2 linked regions of the Homo sapiens genome follow. The protein of the gene in region 1 interacts with the protein of each later gene in a biochemical or structural test. Each region holds a gene or a part of one and is shown in the gene's direction. Other genes may lie near its edges.

The links. The genes of interacting proteins can lie anywhere in the genome.
Region 2: the proteins of SELL (region 1) and SELPLG form a complex in vitro, tested with the Homo sapiens proteins (one large-scale study listed by IntAct).

Annotation. Positions count from the first base shown.
Region 1 is NC_000001.11:169,701,535-169,705,190, reverse strand, and holds part of SELL (L-selectin precursor), read left to right. Parts: intron 1-437; coding exon 438-623; intron 624-1,750; coding exon 1,751-1,936; intron 1,937-3,502; coding exon 3,503-3,631; intron 3,632-3,656. UniProt on the Homo sapiens protein: Calcium-dependent lectin that mediates cell adhesion by binding to glycoproteins on neighboring cells. Mediates the adherence of lymphocytes to endothelial cells of high endothelial venules in peripheral lymph nodes.
Region 2 is NC_000012.12:108,621,389-108,624,044, reverse strand, and holds the end of SELPLG (P-selectin glycoprotein ligand 1 isoform 2 precursor), read left to right. Parts: coding exon 1-976; 3' UTR 977-2,150; downstream 2,151-2,656. UniProt on the Homo sapiens protein: A SLe(x)-type proteoglycan, which through high affinity, calcium-dependent interactions with E-, P- and L-selectins, mediates rapid rolling of leukocytes over vascular surfaces during the initial steps in inflammation.

The DNA of each region.
Region 1 (3,656 bases):
ATTATGGAGACCCACTCTTTCTCTGAACATCTTGCTCCCAATACTCTAGTAGACTCAGGGGCTCTGATGTGATAGTTATTTCCCGACTAAGCTGGTCATTCCCAGTTACACCTATTTGGCTTTAAGGATTCTCACTACAGATAATGCTGAAGATAATAATATGAAGACTAGCTAATGTTTACTTAGAATTTCTGATGAGTCAGGCTTTGTTCTAAGGTCCTTGACTTATGCTAATTGAATTACATTTAGTTTCCATATCAATTTGATAAAGATAACACAATTTCATTATTCCTCTTATATAGATGAAGAAACTGAAGTTGGAGGGTTCAAGTAACCTTGTTTAAAGGCACATGGTTATCAAGTGGCAGGGCTAGGATTCAAATCCAGGCGTCAGTTCCTCTTAACTCTTCCCCATACTGTTTCTTTCCCTATTGAAGTGATTCAGTGTGAGCCTTTGGAGGCCCCAGAGCTGGGTACCATGGACTGTACTCACCCTTTGGGAAACTTCAGCTTCAGCTCACAGTGTGCCTTCAGCTGCTCTGAAGGAACAAACTTAACTGGGATTGAAGAAACCACCTGTGGACCATTTGGAAACTGGTCATCTCCAGAACCAACCTGTCAAGGTGAGTAACTTCAGACTAGAGGTTTTGTCATGCAATCCTGGGCTTACAGTCAGAACATTCAGTAGAAGTTTGCTGAGAAGTCAAACTTAGGAGCCTAATTTAACCTAACTTTGTTTAACCTACTGTGATGTTTCTCAAAGGACTTATTCTAACTAAATTTTTTTGAAAAACCTCCCAAACAAAAAGTAAAAACCAAATACCCCTGAAGCCATCTCCCAGTGTGTAACATGACTTATAGCAATACAGCATGGTTATACTGTGTTTTTTATTTTTCTCATTGCCATTGCATAAATAATGTCTTGTTGAACCTCAGTTACATTTTGGTTCTTCTCCTCTCAATAACACCTGTTTTATGTGGTGTCCTACTTAATACCAACCAGTTTCCTTCCCAGGGTAGTGGAGGTCTTTCTTGGTTGTTTTATTTGGCTTATTCTTAAAATCACTTTTACTTTTCCTCATGCATAAACTTTTAGGAGAATAACAACTGAAAAACAAAAACACAATCTCTTGATCTTTTCAAGTTTGAAATAAGGTAGGTTTTTTTTTTTTTTTCATTTTTAACTGCCAACCTTATCTCCATATGGGAGAAAACCAATGTCATCTGAACTTACGAAGTTTTGGTTAACTTTTCTACAAGTATGCTCCTGATGCATTAGTTTAAGTAGTTTAATTCTTAGAAGTGCTATCAAAATCCCTTATTGAAATTATAAAACTGTCAACCCACCTACTGGAATTTACGGAAGTTGGACTTGCTTCAGTGAATTGGGATGTTTTTCAAAATGCTTGGGTAGATATCAGAACAGATGAAACGGCAGAGATTCTCTGAGAATATCCCATAAGAGCCCTTGATGCAGAGGCCATATGGCATGGTACTTCCAGCAGAAGGGGAGGGTCACCTTAGCTAGGGCAGCAGCCTGGAGTAGCTACTCCTCTCCCCACAGCTTTCAATGCTTCCTTGCCTTCATCTCTCATTCACCACCCACCATCATTCTCAAGAAAATAAAGCCTGGAAGCAATATCACAAGTAATGTAGTCAGGCAGCTTTGGCTAAAAATCCTTTGCTCAAGGGAGGGTCTCTACTCAGAAATACTGTTTTGTCTTTTTTTTTTTTTTCTTTTTCATTGAAGTGATTCAGTGTGAGCCTCTATCAGCACCAGATTTGGGGATCATGAACTGTAGCCATCCCCTGGCCAGCTTCAGCTTTACCTCTGCATGTACCTTCATCTGCTCAGAAGGAACTGAGTTAATTGGGAAGAAGAAAACCATTTGTGAATCATCTGGAATCTGGTCAAATCCTAGTCCAATATGTCAAAGTGAGTAAGTTTGTCCTGGAAAACTGAAATCTTAACGATGGAGCTGATGGATGAGCAGATATGAGGAAAGACATACATAAACATTTACATGTTGTTTTGCTAAGAATATGTGGCCTAGAAATAAATTTGTATGCTTAACTCACTGTAAAATCTTTGGCTGGTCTTTCCTCCTCCTTTAATGACAATCATTTCCTTTTTTTGTTCTCACCTCTTGCCATCTTAACTCCTAAAATCTGAACTCACTGATTTACTTTTTACCCATTCTTCTATTCCACTACAATCTAACATCTCTGTTAGCCCATTGAAATGCCTGTAAAAGGTCACTAATGACCACCTACTTCCCCAAATAATGGATACTCCTGAATCATCACTAAGCTAATGCCTCCAAAATCTATCTGTATATGAGAAGAATCATGTCTTGTTCATCTTTGTATACCCTCCACCTGACACAGTGCCTGGCAATAGGTGCTAAAGCAAATGCATGTTAAGCTAGCATGTGAAAGAATAGCTACCTGTGTCTGCTCCTGAGACTATCTGCATGGATGACAAAAGTCTTTAAATGGTAGGATCTACAGAAGCTGTCAGAAATGCTGATCTCTGTGTGCTGCGTGCCCAGGGCCAGGGAGTAGAGTGGATGAGCAGAGAGAGGCAGGGAGGCCTTTAGCAGAGGACTGTGTATTAGGCCTATCAGAGACATTTCCCTTTAAGGCCTAGCTAGTGTTCATTTCCTCCTCATCTTCATCAAGCCAACAGGTACCTTCTGTCTGGAGCTCCTGGGAACTTGAGCCTTCTCTCAATCATATATTTGGGTGTGGGGATCAAATCACCTTGAAAAGGTTCATCAAAGTAATGGGAAGAACTAAGGATAGAATCAGACCCTCTGCCAATATGTAAAAAAGTAGATTCCTTCAAATGTTAGTATCAGGAGACAGATTTTTTTTTATACCAGTATTTTCAAATAGAGGCTCCCAAATGAACTTAGTTTACACTTACAAGAGTATCTCTAAACATGCCCTTTTACTTATTCGTGAAGGAAGTAGAGGGAAGTGGTAACTACTGCATTGGAAAGAAATTAGTGCAGGTCCTTGGCATGTAAAAATCAAGTGCTTATTTTTGCACAACTGCTTTAAAGTAAAAGCATTAATGATTTCCTTTGACTGGTGAATTATCCAGTTCAGATCATTGGCTTTTATTTTTCCTGAAGTTGTATTAGGCTTTTAGCTCTTCTCTGTGTTTCAGAGTTCCAGTCATTGAACAAGTCCATGGAGCTAAATACAACGATGACCATTCTTGCCAACATTTTTAGGTGCATTTTCAGGAACTCTATGAACCACAAATCTGGGCATTGAGATTCTGTAGGCATTAGACTAGCAAGGCTGGTCCAGTCTTTGCCTATGCTGTAGACTCATCAGGGGCCTTCCCATGCCAGTTTCCTCATCTGTCAAATGGCATCAAATGGGCTACTACTGGGAGATGTAAGGAGGAAAAAAGTCAAATATCATGAGATAGACTAAGGAAATAATGCTGGTGGTCTCATGCTATGTGCCTTACTGATTTCTCTTTCAGAATTGGACAAAAGTTTCTCAATGATTAAGGAGGGTGATTATAACCCCCTCTTCATTCCAGTGGCAGTCATGGTTACTGCATTCTCTGGGTTGGCATTTATCATTTGGCTGGCAAGGAGATTAAAAAAAGGTATGTGAGTTTAACTTCACATGAA
Region 2 (2,656 bases), on another chromosome or scaffold:
GCGTTCTACTGGCCTGGATGCAGGAGGGGCAGTCACAGAGCTGACCACGGAGCTGGCCAACATGGGGAACCTGTCCACGGATTCAGCAGCTATGGAGATACAGACCACTCAACCAGCAGCCACGGAGGCACAGACCACTCAACCAGTGCCCACGGAGGCACAGACCACTCCACTGGCAGCCACAGAGGCACAGACAACTCGACTGACGGCCACGGAGGCACAGACCACTCCACTGGCAGCCACAGAGGCACAGACCACTCCACCAGCAGCCACGGAAGCACAGACCACTCAACCCACAGGCCTGGAGGCACAGACCACTGCACCAGCAGCCATGGAGGCACAGACCACTGCACCAGCAGCCATGGAAGCACAGACCACTCCACCAGCAGCCATGGAGGCACAGACCACTCAAACCACAGCCATGGAGGCACAGACCACTGCACCAGAAGCCACGGAGGCACAGACCACTCAACCCACAGCCACGGAGGCACAGACCACTCCACTGGCAGCCATGGAGGCCCTGTCCACAGAACCCAGTGCCACAGAGGCCCTGTCCATGGAACCTACTACCAAAAGAGGTCTGTTCATACCCTTTTCTGTGTCCTCTGTTACTCACAAGGGCATTCCCATGGCAGCCAGCAATTTGTCCGTCAACTACCCAGTGGGGGCCCCAGACCACATCTCTGTGAAGCAGTGCCTGCTGGCCATCCTAATCTTGGCGCTGGTGGCCACTATCTTCTTCGTGTGCACTGTGGTGCTGGCGGTCCGCCTCTCCCGCAAGGGCCACATGTACCCCGTGCGTAATTACTCCCCCACCGAGATGGTCTGCATCTCATCCCTGTTGCCTGATGGGGGTGAGGGGCCCTCTGCCACAGCCAATGGGGGCCTGTCCAAGGCCAAGAGCCCGGGCCTGACGCCAGAGCCCAGGGAGGACCGTGAGGGGGATGACCTCACCCTGCACAGCTTCCTCCCTTAGCTCACTCTGCCATCTGTTTTGGCAAGACCCCACCTCCACGGGCTCTCCTGGGCCACCCCTGAGTGCCCAGACCCCATTCCACAGCTCTGGGCTTCCTCGGAGACCCCTGGGGATGGGGATCTTCAGGGAAGGAACTCTGGCCACCCAAACAGGACAAGAGCAGCCTGGGGCCAAGCAGACGGGCAAGTGGAGCCACCTCTTTCCTCCCTCCGCGGATGAAGCCCAGCCACATTTCAGCCGAGGTCCAAGGCAGGAGGCCATTTACTTGAGACAGATTCTCTCCTTTTTCCTGTCCCCCATCTTCTCTGGGTCCCTCTAACATCTCCCATGGCTCTCCCCGCTTCTCCTGGTCACTGGAGTCTCCTCCCCATGTACCCAAGGAAGATGGAGCTCCCCCATCCCACACGCACTGCACTGCCATTGTCTTTTGGTTGCCATGGTCACCAAACAGGAAGTGGACATTCTAAGGGAGGAGTACTGAAGAGTGACGGACTTCTGAGGCTGTTTCCTGCTGCTCCTCTGACTTGGGGCAGCTTGGGTCTTCTTGGGCACCTCTCTGGGAAAACCCAGGGTGAGGTTCAGCCTGTGAGGGCTGGGATGGGTTTCGTGGGCCCAAGGGCAGACCTTTCTTTGGGACTGTGTGGACCAAGGAGCTTCCATCTAGTGACAAGTGACCCCCAGCTATCGCCTCTTGCCTTCCCCTGTGGCCACTTTCCAGGGTGGACTCTGTCTTGTTCACTGCAGTATCCCAACTGCAGGTCCAGTGCAGGCAATAAATATGTGATGGACAAACGATAGCGGAATCCTTCAAGGTTTCAAGGCTGTCTCCTTCAGGCAGCCTTCCCGGAATTCTCCATCCCTCAGTGCAGGATGGGGGCTGGTCCTCAGCTGTCTGCCCTCAGCCCCTGGCCCCCCAGGAAGCCTCTTTCATGGGCTGTTAGGTTGACTTCAGTTTTGCCTCTTGGACAACAGGGGGTCTTGTACATCCTTGGGTGACCAGGAAAAGTTCAGGCTATGGGGGGCCAAAGGGAGGGCTGCCCCTTCCCCACCAGTGACCACTTTATTCCACTTCCTCCATTACCCAGTTTTGGCCCACAGAGTTTGGTCCCCCCCAAACCTCGGACCAATATCCCTCTAAACATCAATCTATCCTCCTGTTAAAGAAAAAAAAAAATGGGACTGGGAGCAGTGGCTCATGCCTGTAATCCCAGCACTTTGGGAGGCCGAGGCAGGTACATCACCTGAGGTCAGGAGTTCAAGACTAGCCTGGCCAACATAGTGAAACCCTGTCTCTACTAAAAATACAAAGATTAGTCAGGTGTGGTGGCACATGCCTGTAGTCCCAGCTACTGGGGAGGCTGAGGCAGGAGAATTGCTTGAACCCGGGAAGCGGAGGGAGGTTGCAGTGAGCTGAGATCACGCTACTGCACTCCAGCCTGGGTGACAGAGTAAGACTCCGTCTCAAAAAAAAAAAAAAAGATTCAATGACCCTTGTTAAAGCATGGTAAGGAAGACTTTGTTCAAGGGGAGTGGGACTCTCTCAATCACTGCAGGGACTGCAGCTATGGGATTTTGCAGTGGGGGCATTTGGGCTCAACTATGAGTACAGCAGGGGCAAGTGGGAGCTGATAGCCAGGGAACAGGGTTGGATATCTGCAGCTGGAAAATTACCAAGAGGAA